Linked DNA regions of Homo sapiens. The protein of the gene in region 4 purifies or fractionates together with the protein of the main gene of each other region. This does not show direct contact. Each region holds a gene or a part of one and is shown on either strand. Other genes may lie near its edges. The genes, in order: DLD, GPI, SVIL and ASB15.

Region 1 (5,080 bases), about 16 Mb from region 4:
GCTATATCTTCACAGGATGCTCCATATTCCAAAGCAAGAGCAGCTTCATTTACCATTTCTCCAGCACCCTTTAAAATAACAAGCCAAGTAAATTTGCTTCCAAGGCAAAAACTACATGCTAATAGGATAGCAATTGTTGAGGGGAAGCTTTTAGATCTTAAAAACGCCTTAAATCTGTTTCTTTATCAGTTGAAGAAAAGTCAGGAAAAGCTTAATAGAAAAGGTGACACAGAAGAGCTTGGGCTCTGGAGCCAAAGGGCCTTCAATTCATATCTACCACTTACTACCTTAACCATTCATTGGTTCTTTGTGCTTCATTCAGTTTCTTCACCTCAAAAATAACAGCACCTATTTCAAAAAGCTGATGTAAAAATAACAAAATGTATACTAAAGTGACACAGCACTCAAATATTCTATTCTCATTATTGTTACATCAGATACAAGAGATATCTACAAGAAAGATACATACTTTAGGCTCAGTGGTAGGAAAGGCTTCCCTTAGGAGGTAACATTTGAGCTGAGACCTGAATAATAAGGAGCCAGCCATTCAAAGATCTGGAGGCAGAACAGTCTAAGCAGAGGGTATCTTAAGCACAAAGGCCCTAAAATGCAAATATTTGGTCTGTTGTGAAAATGAGAGAAGGCCCATGTGACATGGCATTAATGAGTAAAAGAGAGCAGAAAAAGAAGAGGTCAGAGAAGTAGGCACAAACAGATTCAGTGAGGCCTTGGATGTAACAATCTGAAGTTGAAAAGCACCACTGGAGGATTTTAAGGGGCATAATCTGGTGTATGTTTTAAAGAGAGAATCTTGGCTGCAGGACAAAGTAGATGATACAGTGGGCAAGACTGTGAGAGTGCTGCTGGTATCCTTCTAGAAATGATGCACAGAGAGCCATATTCAAAGTTTTGCTGGAAATGAGCAACCTCAGACTAACACCAGGTGGTTTATAATTAATAAACAGCAATGCTTTCTAGAAATCTTAATGGGATTTCTCTGGTTTTACAATACTCACTGGTCCAAGAATATGTGCTCCCAGTACTCTGTCTGTCGATTTCTGCCCAAGGATCTTCACCATGCCATCTGTGTCAGCATTTGTCTTAGCTCTGCTGTTAGCAGCAAATGGGAATTTCCCAACTTTGTACTCAATACCCTGTGACAGTCAGAAAAAAAGAATCTACGTAACTGCCAGAAAAGTTCTTTCCAATTTGTAAAATCATCTACCATTTGTTCAGAAAATAAATCCCAAGAAGGGAATTGTTCGCAAAGCACATAGAAGGAAAGGAAAGACCAGAAGACTGGTTAATGAACTATATCTCAGGCACGAATACAAGCAAATACAAATGTCTGTCCATCTGGTTATATTTCAAAGCCAAATATAAAAGATCTGGAATTACTAGTTTTTTAATATAGGCAACTTCTCTTCCTCTCAATTACTGCTGATAAATCTGTGAATGATCTCTTTATAATGCTAACAAGGGAAAAATATATAAGCTAAACAATATTTCACAGCTGTTAAATATATTAGCATAATGATAAAATGCTGTTTCTCAACCACCAATGTCATTGGCACAACTCACACATTGGCTTAAAACCACCCATGTTCAGACTTACCTCTTCTTTCAACTGCTCTTCTGATTTGCCAACCCAAGCAACTTCAGGGTGTGTGTAAATCACTGATGGCACACAATTGTAGTCAATGTGCACAGCACCACCAGCCATTCCTTCAACACAGATAATGCCTTCATCCTCTGCTTTGTGAGCCAGCATTGGACCAGCAACTACATCACCAATGGCATAGATACTACCACAGAAATCAAAAGAAACACAATGAATTTCTGAAATCACAGCTACTTACCTTCAGTTACATTATGGTAACAAAAGTTTCCAGTAAACAAGTCACCAAAAAATACATCAAATGCAGCTCTTCAAAAATCTATGAATTCAGCTTATCTTTGAGTAAAATTCAGTTATTTTTTATTTTACATTTTGTAAGTTTACTATTCTTCCCCAAAGCCAATACATATTTTAAGCATAAAAATCTTACTTTTCAAAATACTGTTTGAAATCAATTTTAAAATTACTGAAAATGCAGACAATTATCCAACTTACTTTGGAATTTTAGTTTGAAATCTGGTATTGACTGGAATTCTACCTCTGGGATCTAGTTCAATTCCCAGCTCTTCTAGTCCCAAATTCTTAGTAAAGGGTCGTCGGCCAATGCAAACCAAGAGTACATCACAAGTGATAACTTCAGCTTTACCACCAGAAGCAGCTTCAATACTAGATAACAAACAGTGTATAAATGTTAAATACACACCTACATAAATTGATAGGCTTAGAAATTTAAGGCCAGCAATTTCTCAAGTGTTGATGACATTTTCATTTTTGTTTTGTTTTGTTTTTGAGACAGAGTCTTGCTCTGTCGCCAGACTGGAGTACAGTGGTGCAATCTCGGCTCACTGCAACCTCCACCTCCCAGGTTCCAGAGATTCTCCTGCCTCAGCCTCCCTAGTAGCTGGGACTACAGGCACGCGCCACCACGCCCAGCTAATTTTTGTATTTTTAGTAGAGACGGGGTTTCACCATGTTGCCAGGCTGGTCTTGATCTCTTGACTTCATGATCTGCCCATCTCAGCCTCCCAAAATGCTGGGATTACAGGTGTGAGCCACCATGCCCAGCCGGCACTGATGACATTTTTAACAATATAAGTTTATTTGAATATAAACATAAGAGTCAGACAATGAAAGAGATCTATCATTAAAATCTAGAGGTCTGTTATTAAAATCTCACAAAAACCACAGTATAATAAAACAGCAGTTAAGAATACAGGTCTTTGAGTCACAGAAATCCAAATTCAACTACTGACTGCCACCCACTAGCTGTGTGACAAGTTAGTCATTAATTAGTCAATGAATTCAGCTTCTTATCTTTGAGTAAAAGTCATTAAACTATTTAAATACTATTAACTATTTAATTTAAATATTTATTTAAAAACTAATTCAATAAGTTAAATGCCATTAAAGTATTTAATCAGTAGAGTACCAGACATATAGTAAGCAATCTTTTATTATTGATTTCCCCATGTATCTGCCTAAAAATATTGATTCAATTTTACTTATTATTGGGAATTTAAATTTTTCTGAATGTACTATAAGAAGGCACAACAATGAGAATATTGGATTCTCTTTCTAGCATTAACCTAATCATAAATTTCAATGTGCTAATGCAATAATTTGATAAGCAACTGAGTTATATTAAGTAATAAAATGACCTTAAGTTAGAAAAAACCCTATATTTGCTAAACTGATTTTGAAACTTGAGTGTTTTGCTTAAAGAGACAGGGATGATACATCAAAAACAAATGATGTATACTTACGAAACATCAATTTTTCCATCTGACTTCTTGGTAGCACCAGTAACCTTTGTATTCAATTTAAATTTAAACCCCTGTTTTTGAAGGATGCGTTGAAAGTTTTTAGATATCTCCATATCAATTCCAACTCCACCTACATGACCTAAAAATTCAACTGCTGTCACATCTGCACCAAGTCTTTGCCAAACTGAACCCTGCAAATAAATTAAAAAAACCCAATAATCATAAAAGTTTCTATAGCAAATGTTTACGAAATCATCTTAATAATTTATTGTAAAACATTTTCTTCTTTCGCTAGTATGTTCCTATGAGAAGCTCCGAGGTTTAAAATTGACCCTGTGTTAAATATGTATAACTTCATACATTTATTAACTTACTCATTCAACATTTGTTGAACATCTACTACATGGTAGGCAATATTTTAGCTTCTAGGCATACATTAGTAAACAAAGCAAAAATCTCTGTTCTCAGGGATCTTATATTCTGGCAGGGGACATAGACAAATATGTAAAATTCATAACAGAGAATAAAGTGCTACAGGAAAAATAAAACAGGAAGTAGAACTAGGACCACTGATTACTGGGATTACAATTTTAAATAGCACGTTTGGGGAAAGCCTCACTGGGAGTGACATTTGCACAAAACTTGAAGGAGTGAGGCAATGAACTACCCAGTTAACTGGGGCAAGAGTGTTGCTCTAGGCAGAGGGAAACAGCAAGTACAAAAGTCTTGAGGAAAAGGAAACAGGTTACTAAATCACTGATGTTTGCAGAATATTAAACTGGCTTCCTATTTTCTTTTCTCAACAAAGGACAAATGTTTACTTTTTCATTCAAATTATAATTTAAACTGAATGCTAGTTTATTTTAACATTTTGACAATTAGTATAACTTCTAAATAATTATATATTAAACAATACATAACTGGCAAGATGAACATAATTTCACAGCATTAAATATGAAAAACCATGAACATATCCTTTGCAAGAATGTATATTAAAATCATCTGGTAATTCAAATGAACTATAAAAGTTTACCTTCCCTAAATTAGGTGTGGGCGTTCATTTAAAAAATCTCATTAATTTCTAGTATGAAGACTGAGTTAACTAGAGGCAATATAGTGACACTAAAAATCTAACAATACGTATATATAAAAGTTAACTCAAAATGGATCATGGACCTAAATGTAAAATCCAATACTATGAAACTTCCAGAAGAACACCTAGGAGAAGAAATCCTAGAAGTGACCTTGAGTTAGGCGAAGATTTCTTTGATGTAACACCAACAGCACAATCCATAAAAGAAAAATGATAAATTGGACTTTGTCAAAATTAGAAAGTCTTAGATAACATTGAGAACACAAAAACAGAAGCCACAGACTGGGGAAAAAAATTACAAAACTTCTATCTGATAAGGGATTTATATCCAGAATATATAAAGAATTCTCCAAATTCAATAAGAAAAATTCAATAAAAAATGGACAAATGTCTGAAGAGGGAAGATATAGAGATGGCACGTAAGTACATTAAAAAATGCTCAACCCCGTAAGTCATTAGAGAAATCTAAGTTAAAACCACAATGAATTGAATTCAACAACACATAAAAAGATCATTCACCATGATCAAGCAGGATTCATCCCAGAGATGCAAGGATGATTCAACATATGTAAATCAATAAACATGATTCATCACATTAACAGAACC
Region 2 (5,322 bases), on a different chromosome or scaffold from region 4:
TCCTCTGCTGACTTCAGGCCATTTCACTCACGTGGCTGGGCCAGCCGCCTGGCACCCGTCACAGACTTCAAGTCTGGTTTGGTTCCTGGCAGTTGGTAGTTATCGGGCTGCTTGGTGAGGGAAGCTTGAGTTGCATGCCTTGCTGCAAATCCAAGGAGCTGAGGACACTGCCTAAAACGTGCCAGCAAACACCATGGACACACATTGGGAGGATGAGGTTACTTCAGGCTTCATGAGCACTCATCTTCGGAAAGCGTTTATTTATTTATTTATTTTGAGATGGAGTCTTGCTCTGTCGCCCAGGCTGGAGTGCAGTGGTGCGATCTTGGCTCACTGCAACCTCTGTCTAATGGGTTCAGGCGATTCTCTGCCTCAGATTCCTGAGTAGCTGGAACTACAGGTGTGTGCCACCCCCACCTGGCTGATTTTTGTATTTTTAGTAGAGACAGGATGTCACCATGTTGGCCAGGCTGGTCTCGAATTCATGACCTCAAGTTATCCACCTGCCATGGCCTCCCAGAGTTCCGGGATTACAGGCGTGAGCCATGGCGCCCGGCCTCTGAAAGCATTTATTGCTTGTTTCTGACATGTATTGTTGCCATTCTCTGCCTTTGCTCACTGTTCCTCTTTTCTCTCACTGTTCATGCCCTGAGCATCTCTGGCAGGCCTTCGGGGCCTGTCCTAGGCATATATGGGTCCCCTCCTCTCCTCCTGACTGTCTGCAGCACATAAGTCCTTGGGGAGCTCCTACTCCTCTAAGCATACAGTGGGTTCTTGGAACAAGGTTATGGTGCTAACAGAGACCTCAGGGCCTGCCTGTCTAGTGGATAGAGGGCCGAGCTATGGCACCATGCCCAGCTGGGAGCATGGCTGCCTGGGGTTGGGGGGGGCAGTCTTTATATCCTGACCGTAATCCCCAGGGTCGAGCCGTGCTGCACGTGGCTCTGCGGAACCGGTCAAACACACCCATCCTGGTAGACGGCAAGGATGTGATGCCAGAGGTCAACAAGGTTCTGGACAAGATGAAGTCTTTCTGCCAGGTAAGTGGCTACTGGGCCGGACTCACCCTTGGCCGTGTGTGTGAGTTATTTGGGAATCTGGGAGCCCTAAGGGGCAGCTCTTCCCTCTTCTTGTAGGCAGGACTCAGGTTCTCACTGCAGCTTAAGGGAGGGGTTGCCTGTGTGATCGCTGACCCTGGAGTCTCTGCTGAGGCCTGAATTTCTCCTGGCTCTGCTCTGAAGGAATCTGCTGCTGGCAGAAGTGGGGCCAGTTTCTTTCCTGAATTGTAGACACCTATGGACTCATGGTGACAAACCACAGAGGCTTCAAATGAAAAGTGGGGCCCCTGAGAGACAGGACAGTCAGGAAAGGAAGGAGCTTTTTCTTTTTTCTTTTTTTTTTTTTGAGATGGAGTCTCACTCTCTCGCCCAGAGTGGACTGCAGTCGTGCTATCTCAGCTCACTGCAACTTCCGCCTCCTGGATTCAAGCTATTCTCCTACCTCAGCCTCCCGAGTAGCTGGAATTACAATTATGCGCCACCCTGCTCAGCTAATTTTTGTATTTTTAGTAGAGACGGGATTTCACCATGTTGGCCAGGCTGGTCTCAAACCCCTGACCTCAGGTGATCTGCCTGCCTCACCTGGGATTACAGGCATGAGCCACTGCGCCTGGCCGGAAGGAGCTTTTTCTAATCTCTTTTGTCATACGCCCTTATCACCCAGTCTAGAAACAGATAAAACATTGTAAAATTTCCTCAACCCTGGCTGGGCGCGATGGCTCATGCCTGTGATTCCTGAACTTTGAGAGGCCGGGGTGGGTGGATCACTTGAGGTAAGGAGTTCGAGACCAGCCTGGCCATCATGGTGAAACCCCATCTCCACTAAAAATACAAAAATTAGCCAGTTTTGGTGACATACGCCTGCAATCCCAGCTACTTGGGAGACTGAGGCAGGAGAATCGCTTGAACCCGTGCGGCAGAGGTTGCAGTGAGCTGCGATTGCGCCACTGCACTCCAGCCTGGGCGACAGAGGGAGACTCTGTCAAAAAAAAAAAAAAATTTCCTCATCCCCATTCCCAGCTAACCCTCCAGAAGCAGCCTTTGTAAAGTTTCCTGTAGCCAGGCGCAGCAGCTCATACCTCTATTCCCAACTATTCAGGAGGCTGAGGTGGGAGGATGGCTTGAGCCTGGGAAGTTGAGGCTGCAGTGAGCCATGGTGACACCACTGCACTGCAGCCTGGGCGACAGCAAGATCGTGTCTCTAAATAAATTTAAAAAATAGAAAAGTTTTCCTGTGAAGTCTTCCAGAAAGTTCCTGTGCACATACACATCTGTCATCTCCTCTTTGAAACACGTACACATGTGCACATGCACACAGGTTGGTTTTCTCCCTGCTCCTCTGAAGCTTATTTCCACCTGGAAGTATGTAAGCAGTGTCCGTGTGTCAGTGACAGTGCATGTAACATGCCTTCTTTTCCTTGTGTGTAGGGTGGTAGGGGTTGCCTCAGAGACCAGCTAAGTTTCCCCACATCAAGCACTTGCCTCAGTGTCTACCCTAGCGGTGATTCTGCAGGGGTGGGTTGGCAGACATCCTCACGTCTGGAGAACGAGGGTGATGCCGGTGTGCCTGTGTGGGCTGTGCATGCTACGAGGGTGATCGTCCAAACTCTTGTCAGCTGTGATCATTTGCTGCTTGTCCTAGGAGCAGTGGCCTCCATGTGTGGCTGGTCAGAGTCCAGTTACTTTGGCCAAGAGCCACTTTCAGACCTGAAAATGGGCTGGGTGCAGTGGCTCACGCCTGTAATCCCAGCACTCTGGGAGGCTGAGGCAGGTGGATCATGTGAGGTCGGGAGTTTGAGATCAGCCTGATCAACATGGTGAAACGCCGTCTGTACTAAAAATACAAAAAAATTACCTGGGCGGGCATGGTGGCGAGCACCTGTAATATCAGCTACTGGGGAGGCTGAGGCAGGAGAATCTCTTGAACCCGGGAGGCAGAGGTTGCAGTGAGCCAAGATCACGCTACTGCACTCCAGCCTGGGTGACAGAGTGAGGCTCTGTCTCAAAAAAAAAAAACCAACAAAAAAACCAACCCATCTCTGGAAAAAATAAATAAATCAGCTAGGTGTGGTGGTGTATCCCAGCTACTTGGGAGGCTGGGGTGGGAGGATTGCTTGAGCCCGGGAGGTTGAGTCTGTACTGAGCTGAGATTGTGCCACTGTCCTCCAGCTCAGGTGACAGAGTGAGACGCCTCCAGGGCAAGGAAGTTGTGGGGTCCTGATGGGAATCTGGATTTCCTGAATGTCACTTAGGGTGATCAGTCCATGTGATGGTCTTTGGGTGTGTGGCGGGGCCTTTCCAGCCATCTGCTGTGAGTGGCAGAGCTGAAGTGCATTAAAAGCCTAGTGCTGTGTGATCAGTCTGGGTGTGCTCAGCCATGCCACATGGCGAGGATGGCACTGCACCGTCTGGGGTGCTGTTTCCAGGAAAGCCTTCCCTTAAAGCTGGCCACTGGAGTACCTGACTCAGGCTGATAAGGTATTTATAGTTCAAAAAAAGTTGCTGAATGGCAGTAATCCCCTGGTGAGGAACATTCCCCATGGCTGTGCTCTCCAAAGTTTGCCAAGATTGGGTGAAGACGTTCACTGTGACCTTGATTGTAGTGGCAAAACCTGAAACCAAGCTGTACTCATTTGTCAGGGGACTTACAAAGTAGAGTCAGCACATATTCATATACTGTCATCCTGGGCACCAATAGGGATTAGGGAGCTATAGTTGGATTGATCTGCCATGCTGTTCAGGATGGACTGGGAAGTTGAAAAAGGAAGTTGCAGAATTGGTGGGTATGGTAAAGACTCATTTGGTCAAATGAAGGCTGGGTGTAATTGTAATAAAGATAGACACATTTGGCTTGGTGCAGTGGCTCACACCTGTAATCCCAGCACCTTGGGAGGCCGAGGTGGGTGGATCACGAGGTCAGGAGTTCAAGACAAGCCTGGCCAACATAATGAAACCCCATCTCTACTAAAAAAAAATACAAAAAAGTTAGCCTGGCATGGTGGTGCATGCCTGTAGTCCCAGCTACTCGGGAGGCTGAGGCAGGAGAATCACTTGAACCCCAGAGGTGGAGGTTGCAGTGAGCCAAGATCACGCCACTGCACTCCAGCTTGGGCAACAGAGTGAGACTTTGTCTCAAAAAGAAAAAAAAAAAGACACATTTTTCCTCTGGGATGCTTCATTATAACAAACCTTTGACAGTCGGGAAAGGAGACTTGCTTTTTTTTTTTTGAGACAGAGTCTTACTCTGTTGCCCAGGCTGGAGTGCAATGGCGAGTTCTCGGCTCACTGCAACCTCCGCCTCCCAGGTTCAAGCAATTCTCCTGCCTCAGCCTCCTGAGTAGCTGGGATTACAGGCATCCGCCACCACACCCAGCTAATTTTTGTATTTTTAGTAGAGATGAGGTTTCACCATGTTGGTCAGGCTGGTCTCGAACTCCTGACCTCAGGTGATCCACCCACCTTGGCCTCCCAGAGTCCTGGGATTACAGGCATGAGCCACCACACCCAGCCAAGACTTGCTTTTTCTAACCTCTTTTGTCACACGCCTGTGAGGGAGGGTTGAGAAGTTGAACAACTTATTTTATTTCTTTCTGTATTGATGGAAATTTTCCCATGGCAGTTTATTTAAAGAAAAAGTAGGGCCAGGCACAGTTGCTCACATCTGTAATCCCAGCACTTTGGGAGGCAGAGGCAAGAGGATTGCTTGAGGCCAGGAGTATAATACCAGCCTGGGCAACATAACAAGACCCTGCCTTTAACAAAAATTTAAAAATTAGCCAGCTGTGGTGGTGTGTACCTATAGTCCTGGCTGCTTAGGAGGCTGAGGCGGGAGAATTGCTTGAGCCCAGGAATTTGAAGCTGCAGTGAGCTATGATCATACTCCTACATTCCAGGTCGAGCAACAGAGCGAGACCCTGTCGTTAAAACAAAACTAAAAAATACCCAGCAAGGTGCAGTGGCTCTTGTATAATCCCAGCATTTTGGAAGGGTGAATCGGATCACTGCAGGCCAGGAGTTCAAGACTAGCTTGGGCAACCTAGACCCTGTCTCTTTTTTGTTTGTTTGTTTTTTGAGACAGAGTCTCTCTCTTTCACCCAGGCTGGAGTGCAATGGCCTGATCTCGGTTCACTGCAACCTCCGCCTCCCAGGTTCAAGCGATTCTCCTGCCTCAGCCTCCCGAGTAGCTGGGATTACAGGTACCTGCCACCACACCCAGCTAATTTTTGTGTTTTTAGTAGAGATGGAGTTTCACCATGTTGGCTAG
Region 3 (5,322 bases), on a different chromosome or scaffold from region 4:
TCTCCTTTTGGGTGGGTGGATGGTGGGAATGCATGACTAAGAGCTGTTGCTCATATTAGAAATACATGGAACAGACTGGTGGTCAAGAGGCAGGTTTTGGGCTGGGTGCAGTGACTTGTGCCTGTAATCTCAACACTGTAGGAGGCTGAGGTGGGAAGAGTCCTTGAATCCAGGAGTTGGAGACCAGCTTGGGCAATATGATGAGACCCTGTCTCTATAAAGAATACAAAAATAGGCTAGGCATGGAAGTGTGCACCTGTAGTCCTACCTACTTGGGGTGGCTGAGGTGGTAGGGTCGTTTGAGCCCAGGGGTTCAAGGTTTGTGTGAGCCATGATTGAGTCACCACACTGCAGCCTGGGTGACAAAGCAAGATCCTTTCTCTAAAAAAAGAAGAGGCGAATTTTGGATGATCTTGCCTGCGTCTGAGTACTGACTCCTCCACTCACTGAAAGTCACTTTGGCCAAGTGACTTCGTGTTTTTGTGTCTCTGCTCCCACACCAGTAAAATGGGAATAATAATAAGATATCTTGATGGACTGTTGTGATAAATGAGAAAATCAGTGTAAAGTGCTTGGAGATGTGCCTAGTGCAGAGTGGGCACTTGCTGAATGTTAATTATTTGTATAACTTGCTGGTGTGGGAAGCCTGACTCTTCTCCGGCTGGAATCCCACAGGCCTGCACAACAGTAAATGGCCCCGCTGCTAACCCCCAAGATCTATAGTGAATACACAGGGAGGATGGTGAGTTATATCCTTCTGAAAGTGGCTCAACTGTGCCACAGAACTGATGTTTATGATTTCTTTGGAATAAACGTCGAAATTAACTCTCCTAGTCTTGAAATTCGAGAAAGTTATATTTGTCTTATCTGAGTTCCTTTCTCAGGAAACCAACCATCAGGCATCTCCAATAGTATCAAAAAGCCAGCAGTGGCTCATGCTTGTAATCCCAGCACTTTGAGAGGCTGAGGTGGGCAGATGGCTTGAGCTCAGGAGTTCAAGACCAGACTGAGAGACATGGCAAAACCTCATTGAAAATACAAAACAAATTAGCCAGGCATTATGGTGTGTGCTTGTAGTCCCAGCTACCTGGGAGGCTGATGTGGGAGGATTGTCTGAGCCTGGAGCTGGAGGCTGCAGTGAGCTGTGATTACACCACTGCACTCCAGCCTGGGCAACAGAGCAAGACCCTGTCTCAAAAAACAAAAACAAAACCTGAAGCTTACCAGACCCCTTACCCACCATGATGCCTAACCAACCCCCCGCTTCCTGTTGACCAGCTCCTCTTCCTCACCCCTCCCTAATTCCTGTTTCCCACACATGGTTACATTTCTTCCCTGCTATAAAAATCCCTAATTTTAGTAGGCCAGAGACACAGATTTGAGACTTATGTCCTGTTCCCCTTGGCTGTAGCACCCAAATAAACTTTCTTCCTTGGCTATGCTTGTCTCAGTGATTGGCTTTCTTCTGTGTAGTGAGCAATAAGCCCTGGACTGAACCCCTGGCAATTTGGTAACTCCTGAACTTAGACTGCATGCAGCAGCCATAGAGCTCGTAATCCCTAGAGCCTTCTGGTTTCACGAAACCACAGTTGCAGTGAACAGAAACATCTCGTTCCGGCTGCGGCAGACACCAAGCTGAAGTCAGCCCCTTCCCTGTGTACATCAAGTCCATTTGGCTCCAGGGAGACAGGTTAGGGTGAGCAGTGATGTCTGTACTACCCAACAGGCCCTCTCCATTGCTAAGCAGAAGTAGATTCTGTTTGTTTAAAATTACTCGAATTTCCTATAAAATACACTTGGGTCGTTTCCCCAAGCAAAGCAGCTCTCACATGGTAAAAAAAAATCAAAATGGTAAAAAACCTATCTCTCACCAAATCAAAACAAATCCTTGGATTTGCTATTCCTAGCAATGTTAATAGCTCATATATAAGAAATTCAACATAGCTATAATAAAATTCTTTCCTGTGTGGTTGGAAAAGAAAACATTCTAGATTATAATATATTTTGGTGGATAGAAGTTATGATAAATGCCTCATGCAGAAATACCAGGTGGTCTCATAAAAGACAATATTAATGAGATGTTGAGTGATCCCTTATCATAAGGGAGTCGCAGCACCTCCATTCATTCAGTTTTCTGAACATACTAATTCATCAGATTTCGTTTGTGTCTCCTCTACACAAGGTTAACATCTGAAACATGAGGGTTTGGTTGTGCGTCACATGGACACTGAGAGACAAGCAATGCCAAGCAACAGGTTCTTAGCAAACAGAATGAAGAGTTCGCAGCTTTTATGTACATATATAGTCCTCAACATGATTCAACTCACCTTTGCTTTTAAGTTTTTAAAATTTGGGTATCGTGTAGAAAATTACTAAAATAGTTAATTGATTTTCCATTAGACTTCTCTTCTTCCTAAGCAAATTCTATGTAGGTTTGTTAAGATGTTGCAAAAGGAAAAATATTTTCCCACTCTGAAAGTGCAATTGGATGCTCTCCCCAAAGTAAAGTTAACCCACAATCCAAAAGGCGCAGGAGCCACCTTCATAGGGCAGGAAAGCGTGCTCACCATCTCTGTGATCTCAGCGATGTCCTCTCTGTGCTCCCAGCTGGGAAACATATTGGTGAATGTCAGGGGCTCCAGACCAGCGTGGATAAGGTAAGACTTGGGGGCTGGTTTCTTGAGATTTTTTCCTGTAGTTACACAGATTGCAATGTCAGTAGACCCCAGGGAGACCCTGTCTTTCTCTGATTTCCCTTGAAATCTTTTCTTCTTTGCCAGAACTCATGACTTCATGCTTAAAATGCAAGTTACCAGTAGTTCATAACAACACATGGATAATGTTTATATAAGATGTTTGTTAGTTTCATGCCTGTGACTACCATAGTGACCTATAATCAACCTGAGTCTATACTTCTTGAACCTAACAAAACGCTGTGTATTCCTGGAAGGGAGAGAGAGGCTCTGTCTGCAGCTTCTGGGTGGAGCATTTTCTTCCTCCTGAATTCACCTGTAGAGTCATCCGTCTCATTTCCTAGCACAGGATTAACTCCCATAATGACTGACGGCGAACGACAGCATCTTATACATCCACATTCACTATAACATTGAGTGGAAGGTTTCATATGTTATTTATTGCTAAAGAGTTTTTCAGGAAGAGAATCCATTGCACATACTCAGTGACATTAAACTAGTTGTGTCAATGAAACCATAAAAATTAAATAAGATTAATTACTGGCATTTTCATTTTATATAAAAGACTAGAAATTTCATGTGTATAGTAAAGAACCATGAACTTACTATGGGTATTTCTCTTTGGATATAATACTAAAAATAATAATGAATAATAAAAAGGTTGGCAATGGCCGTTCACTGTTTGGGGGAGACCTCCATTCTCCAACAGCGTGGTAGTGCTTGCAGATAATGTACAGGGCAGAGGCCAACTTGTCTCTCAGCATGATCAACCCCGAGTACAGCGGGGTTTTAATCTGCCTGGGGCATTCCACAATACAGCCTTTATCCTTGAGGGTAACAAGTTAGCCTCATAATATCAGAGAGAAAAACTAGTTCTTCTTCATGCTGGCAGCTGAGAATGCGCTAATCTAAAACTTAATACATCTCAAAAAGTTAAAGGGGAAAAAATTGGTTTCATCACCACCTGCCAGGCTTTATGGATGGATGCTGGCTGACATGCACAGAAGGGGAAGGGGGTCTCCTGGCTGCGCATGCCTGAGGGGCTTCCCCATCTGTTCCGTGCTGCAGGCATGTTAGAGGGAGCCTCACCTTTGCAGTACTGGAGCACAGTCTCCATCGCACTCTTCCGGTCGGAGGCCCAGCGGATGCGGGCGGAACCAGTGATCTTGTTCTCGATGGGCCACCAGCCTTGCCAGAGGTACACCTCGTGGTGATTGTCAACAAGGAAAAGTGCTGTGAGGGCAGGGACAGGGCCAGACCATCAGGAGCTCCTTCACGGACACTTCTAGCTCACTCCTCCCCCAACCTAGTGGATGTTGTCCCTCTTGACTGCAGTGTCACAGGGGGAAACCCCCTTGGCCATCAAACCAGGGGCAAAGGGGCAAACAGAGAAACCCAGGATACCCCAGCCCTTTGACAGTTCAACGGGGAGAAGCCTGTAGGCAGAGAGAAGTGGTGTCAAGGAGTTGGTCTTTTTCATTCCTCGTCCTCCAGGTCCTCCTCCCTTTGCCCCAGCTCAAGGCCCTGGCCCTTCTGGATACTGGCAGGGCTGTGCTAAGAGTGGAAGGGATAATGCATGTGCCACTCAAGGGGCTGTTAGCACCGCATATCTCCAAAGAGCACAATCAACACTGGAGCGCACATCTCACTGCAGACAGGTCAGTGGCGTTCCTGCCCTGCACGCGATTGCTTAGCAGTGAGGTGAGCTCATGGCTCTCTTACAGAGAAATGGGCCTTAAAAAGCAAAACTGCCACCGGGAGTGGTGGCTCATGCCTGTAATCCCAGTGCTTTGGGAGGCTGAGGAGGAAGGACTGCTTGAGCCCGGAGGTTGAAGACCAGCCTGGGCCACATGATGAGACCCTATCTCTACAAAAAGAAAAAAAAAATTAGCGAGGCATGGTGCTGCATGCATGTAGTCTCCACTACTCAGGAAGCTAAGGAGAGAGGATCGCTTGAGCCCAAGAGTTAGAGGCTGCAGTGAGCCATGACTGCGCCACTGCACTCCAGCCTGGATGACAGAGTAAGACCCTGTCTCTAAAAAATAAAATAAAAGGAAATAAAAATCAAAACTGTTCTACTGCCTTTTCCTCCTACCTTTTTCTCCTCCTCAAATTGTCAGTCTGACTCTTACTCCAGGTGGCAAAATGCCTCTCACTCTTGCTAGTCGGCTCACTGTAAGTCCTTTCCTGACATGCATTTCAGGATTCTGTGAAAACCACACTTTAAAAGCCCAGTGGAGGTTGATAACCCGCCCTGAGCCCCAGGATGAAGGGCGTGGGCACACCCTCTCTTACTGGTGGCTGATTTTCCAAGCATGACATGTGCACTGGGCAAACTTTCAGTGCTGCCCTGAGATCCCGGTGCAAGATGAGGTCCCTGGCTGCAGCTCCAGGCTCTTGTAATGTGAGAAGCAACAAACACAAACTGAGAGGCAGCTGACCTTGGCTTCATTGGAGGGTGGGTGGGAGGGGTTGTCAAGCCCAGTCTCTTGTTACTTTCCCAACCAGAATGAGGGCACAGAGCCCTGACCTTGGGATCAGAAGACCTGGGCTGGAGTCTTGGCTCTGCTGTGGAGACTTGGTATGGCAGACCCTGTTCCCTGGCTAACTTAGCCAATACCCCAACATC
Region 4 (5,322 bases):
CAATATTTTAAGATATTTAAAAATATGTATTCTAATTATTAAATATTATTTATTTTATCTATGTACTAATATTCAAAAATAAATAATTGTGCTGTATCTATTTTATCAGAGCATATAACCATTATGTATTGCATCTTCTCCCTTTTAACTCTCACTTAGTCTTGGCATTCTGTTTAGTGTTAGCCTTGTTTAATACTAGTCCTCATGGTGATATCTCGCTAATCATTTTGGGTTGTCTAAAGGCCATTTCTTAGTGGATCCTTTGGACGTCAGCAAGAGGAACAATATTTCCTGAGTTCTTGCATGCTGACAACAGTTTGCCTACATTGATCATTGGAAGTCAATTTTGCTGTGTAAGCATCCTTGCCTCACATTTTCCTTCCAAGGAGAGTCTTAAATATGTTACTCCATTGTCTTTTGGCATAAAGTATTGTTGATGAAAAGTTTAATAATAATCTATTTTTTTCTCTTATAAGTCACTTGTTCTTTTTGCCTATGTGCCCAAAGGATATAGTATTTTATATATTATAGTTTCAAATCTTTCTTTTTTATTACAAGTTTTTCTTGAAACTTAGTTTTTTGTATTTCTTATGTTCCCTTGATTTGGTTTTCCTTTTCAAGGAATCCTATTATCCATATATTGACTATTCATTGTCTGTCATCAATGTTTTTAGCTGTCTTTCAAATCCTTTTATCTAAGCTACAGGGATGCAAAGGCATAAGAATGATACAATGGACTTTGAGGACTCAGGGGGAAGGGTGGGTCAGGGATAAAAGAGTACACATTGGGTACAGTGTACACTGCTTAGGTGATGGGTGCACCAAAATCTCAGAAATCACCGCCAAACAACTTATCCATATAACCAACACGACCCGTTCCCCCAAAACCTATTGAAATAAACAAATATACATATTTTAAAATCCTTTTATCTATTTCTTCGTTTATATTTGATTTACAATTTTTCTTCCATATCCTCTTTTATATCTCTCAATGTATTGTCAACTGTGTTGCTAGTTCTTGTTTTCATTCTAGTTCAGTCTTCACATTTGACATTAATTTTTTCTAATTTTTATTCCTAAATCTTTCCTCAGTTGTTACCTGATTTCTGAATTTTTCAAATTTTGACTCGTATTGTTCTTTCATATCTGATATTATTTTCCTCATGCTTTTTAGCTCATTTTTGAAATAGAAGGTTTGCATTTTTTAAGTTATGTATTCATTGCCCGTGGGGATATTATTCTGTTCTTCTTTCTATTATTATTATTATTATTATTTTTGAGATGGAGTCTCGCTCTGTCGCCCAGGCTGGAGTGCAGTGGGGCGATCTCGGCTCACTGCAAGCTCCGCCTCCCGGGTTCACGCCATTCTCCTGCCTCAGCCTCCTGAGTAGCTGGGATTACAGGCGCCCGCCAGCACGCCCGGCTAATTTTTTGTATTTTTAGTAGAGACGGGGTTTCACCTTGTTAGCCAGGGTGGTCTCGATCTCCTGACCTCGTGATCCGTTCGCCTCGGCCTCCCAAAGTGCTGAGATTACAGGTGTGAGCCACCGCGCCCTCTCTGTTGCTCATTTTTATTTGCATTTAGTTTTCTTGACTTTTTAGAAGGATGCTTGGTTCCAGATAGCTCTTCTAACTTTGCAGAGCTTCTTACTCTATTATTTTCTTGCAATGACTCAAAATATGGTGGTTAGATCTCTGAGGTTTCCTGGCTCTGTTTGCCACCCCAACTTTTTTGTGGGTCCTTTCTTGTTTCTGTCCTGCTCGATTTTTGATTTTACTCTCAATGCGGGCTTAAGTCCAGGAAGGGAACTTAGAGAAGTGGTTTTCAAGAATGCATAGGGTCTAGACTGTTTTGTAATTTCCCTTAGGCTTAGCTTTTTATTTGTAAAAAATAAGCATGATAATACTTTACAATATTTCATAGCACACTGTACATATACATTTCAGATACCTCACATAAACTTACCATGTAGTAAAAACATAAAAATGTTAATACTTTAGTTTTAAAACTAAATAAATTTATTAAGTAATTTAAGTATTCTAGACACTACCACCTTATATGCATTATTTCTTTAGATTCCCACAACAACTTTATGAGGTTAATACTATCTTACATCTACTTTGCAATGGGAAAACCTAGGCATAAGAAGAATAAGTAACTTGCTCAAAGTCACACAACTAGGATGGCTATCTTGGTCTTTTTATAGGAAATAAAAAAATCCTCCTCCACTTAGAGAAGCAAAAATGGTAACAATAAATTGTTGCTTTTTATCATGAAAACATCAGTCCTGAATTACATATGCATTTTATAATCTAGCAATCCTACTCCTAGGCAAGGCCAGAATTTCATTTCATTCTAGGTCTATCTGACCCCAGAGCTCAATTTCTGGGCTAACAATACTATATTACTCATCAGATTCTCCAAGACTCCTGTTTTAGTTGCTGCAAAGTCTCTTCTATTATAGAACTAATTCCAGGGGAAGGCTGATTCAGGTACATTAAAAATGTCAAATTATTTAAATGTCATATAAAATTCTATAATGCTTCTTTAGGCTTCATGAAATTGATGTCCAACTAGGTTTTGAAAGTTTATTTTTCCAAACTTATATTTTGAAAGTGAAAGCATCTCAAATCTATGATATTTTTCTGGTTTTTATTTGTATTTGCATTATTTAAAAATGTACTTTCATTGAAACTTGTATTATTCATTTTCATGGTAAACTTTCACCTAGAAAAGACAAAATGGCCTGTCTACAAATACTAACCTTTGATGGTAGGACTTTGTCAATAAAGACCCCAGAGAAAGCATGTCAAAAAGAGTAATTCTAATCCCTGCTGTTCATTCATTTACTCCATATTTATTGAAATGTACTACTTACTAGGCACTATGCTAAGCCTTGCAAATATAACAAGAAACAAAGTAGATCTCTACCCACATGGAGCTTGCAGTCTACGTATTGTATGATATTATAGAAGTTAATTTTTAAAATGAATTGTAATCAGAACGTTAATATAGCTGTAGTATTACTCATTATACAATTACAAAGCTGGAAAATATAAAGAAAAATGAAAATATGTATCTTACAACAGAGGAAGTGTTAAGGATGATTTTAAAACCCAGATAATTCTGGAAATACAGTAGAGTAGCATAGGAAAAGTATCAAAGAAGACATTAAGAAATTTCCCCCATATAAGTTCTTAATTTAAAAATTGTAGGCAAAACTTTTGGTTTTTACCTAGTATTTGGCGGATTTCTGGCCATTCTCTCTGTACTTCTAGTGCAGACTTCAGTTTAGCACACAGAGGAACATAATCCATGTAATCTATTAGTACACGAGTAACTCTGCCTACCAAGTGCTTCATCCAAGGAACTGTAATAAACTCACAGAACTGAGAGAATTGATAAAATTTAATTTAGTAGTATTTTTAATATCATATACATAAACACTCAATTGTGTTATGGAAAAATTACTCTGTTTTACTACAGAAAATAAAAGATCTCTCCTTGTAATGAACAAAAATTAAAAATAAATTGTTTGCTTCTCTCTGTGAAACCATCAGCCCTGAAGACTCGCCTGGCTCTGATGTGATTGTAGTCAGCAAAGCATGGAGAAGTCATGCTTCTTCCCATCTGGCCCCAATATTCTACCAAACAGGCAGAAGTGACTAATTACATACATTTTCACATTCTTCTACATTCAGTTTTCAAGTCAAGAAAAAACAAACAACATATTTTTGGGGGAGAGGTTGGGGGGCTAGATTTATGCTTATATCCCTGTATCATTGCATACAAAAATTGAAAAAACAAGAAAAATAGAAAAATTAGAGTTTATTTTTCTTTTCTTGTAACATCCCTAATTGAATGAACATGTATTAAATTAGGATGATAACTCAATATAAAGCAGAAAAGGCATAACTCACCGGGTTATCTTTTATTACACAAGATGTCCATCCTGGCAGCACCTCTTCCTGTATCTCTGACCACACAAATGAATTTCCAAAGATGTCACCATGCATGCAGTCAAAGCACATCTCCACTTGATAGCCATTATTCAGCAATAGCCTCAGCATTACCTCGTCGTTTAGAGCATATTGAATGACACTGGGGAAACGAGTGTCATTCACATGCATAAAATAACAATTGACATTAGCTCCATGGGAGAGAAGCAGCCTGACAATTTCATAATTATTGGCCCTCACTGCAACAAGTAGACAGTTGAGGGGATCTAAGTTTGGGTCTGCACCTGCAGCCAGAAGGACTTCTGTGCAATGAACGTCATTATTAGAAACGCCAAAATACAGCGCAGTCTTCCTCTCATCGTCATAGCTCTGGGAAATGTGGTCAGCAAGTAGAGTGTTGACATCAAAACCATTTTCAATGAGCAGTTCTAGACACTGTGCATTTTGTCCATCTGCTGCTGAGTGAATTGGTGTTAGCCCACTTTTCCGAATTGCATTTTTAGATGTTACTGGGATAAGATATTTCAGTGCACTAAAAGAAAAAAGTCAAATATCTACTTGCCATAAAGAAAATCAAGAAATTAAATAAACTACCGTTCTCACTAGATAAGTGAATGCAAGTTGTATAGTTTCCCTTATTTTCTCTAGATAACTTTATACTGAAACATTTAACCTTTGTCTGCCGAGGTACAACTATTTAGTTTAGTGTAATGTAGCTCAGTTTTGATTTAGCTTTTTGTTCTAAATATTCCTGGGAAACTGCATCTTATATGTTTTTTCCTAGAATTGTAGTTCCTCAAGAACACGCCCCATCTTCCAATTCTCCTCTGAACAATATAATATTTACAGGCAACCAATACTATTTTTAAAAATGTAGAAGAAAAGTAAGCCTTTCTAATGCCACAGAGGAATGCTTCATAATCTTGACCATTAGGATCATGGGGTGATAGGAAGTGACCCTGGATGTCATTCAGTCCAACTGCTTCATTTAACAGAAGAACAATCTGAAGTCTAGAGAGGCAAAAAGATTGTCCAAGGTCACACAGTTAGACGCAGAGCAGGACAAGAATTTGGGCCTTTTCCAATTCTCATGAATTATTCCTCTTTCACTGATTCCTACACAATCTATTTTTTAATATTGACCATGAACACTCTGTCTGCTTCCATATAACTTGCAATTGAATTATTAGCCAAAAGAAGAGTCTTTAGTATTCCATCAACCTTGCATCAGTCCAATTGAGATAACCAGCCACAGTTTATGTTTCTAAGTACATGTGATATAGTTGTGAGTTTCACACTTGACTAACCAGCCAGACATGTATGAGAGTCACAGGCAAGGAGAACCTGATCTCTTGTGTCTAC

The links.
Region 1: the proteins of ASB15 (region 4) and DLD purify together in Homo sapiens (affinity purification with mass spectrometry, with the first as the bait; one large-scale study listed by BioGRID). This does not show direct contact.
Region 2: the proteins of ASB15 (region 4) and GPI purify together in Homo sapiens (affinity purification with mass spectrometry, with the first as the bait; one large-scale study listed by BioGRID). This does not show direct contact.
Region 3: the proteins of ASB15 (region 4) and SVIL purify together in Homo sapiens (affinity purification with mass spectrometry, with the first as the bait; one large-scale study listed by BioGRID). This does not show direct contact.

Annotation. Positions count from the first base shown.
Region 1 is NC_000007.14:107,913,998-107,919,077, reverse strand, and holds part of DLD (dihydrolipoyl dehydrogenase, mitochondrial isoform 1 precursor), read right to left. Parts: intron 3,573-5,080; coding exon 3,382-3,572; intron 2,285-3,381; coding exon 2,114-2,284; intron 1,806-2,113; coding exon 1,616-1,805; intron 1,155-1,615; coding exon 1,017-1,154; intron 69-1,016; coding exon 1-68. UniProt on the Homo sapiens protein: Lipoamide dehydrogenase is a component of the glycine cleavage system as well as an E3 component of three alpha-ketoacid dehydrogenase complexes (pyruvate-, alpha-ketoglutarate-, and branched-chain amino acid-dehydrogenase complex).
Region 2 is NC_000019.10:34,367,663-34,372,984, forward strand, and holds part of GPI (glucose-6-phosphate isomerase), read left to right. Parts: intron 1-920; coding exon 921-1,040; intron 1,041-5,322. UniProt on the Homo sapiens protein: In the cytoplasm, catalyzes the conversion of glucose-6-phosphate to fructose-6-phosphate, the second step in glycolysis, and the reverse reaction during gluconeogenesis.
Region 3 is NC_000010.11:29,459,710-29,465,031, forward strand, and holds part of SVIL (supervillin), read right to left. Parts: intron 3,927-5,322; coding exon 3,783-3,926; intron 2,693-3,782; coding exon 2,568-2,692; intron 1-2,567.
Region 4 is NC_000007.14:123,628,034-123,633,355, reverse strand, and holds part of ASB15 (ankyrin repeat and SOCS box protein 15), read right to left. Parts: intron 4,493-5,322; coding exon 3,922-4,492; intron 3,391-3,921; coding exon 3,237-3,390; intron 1-3,236.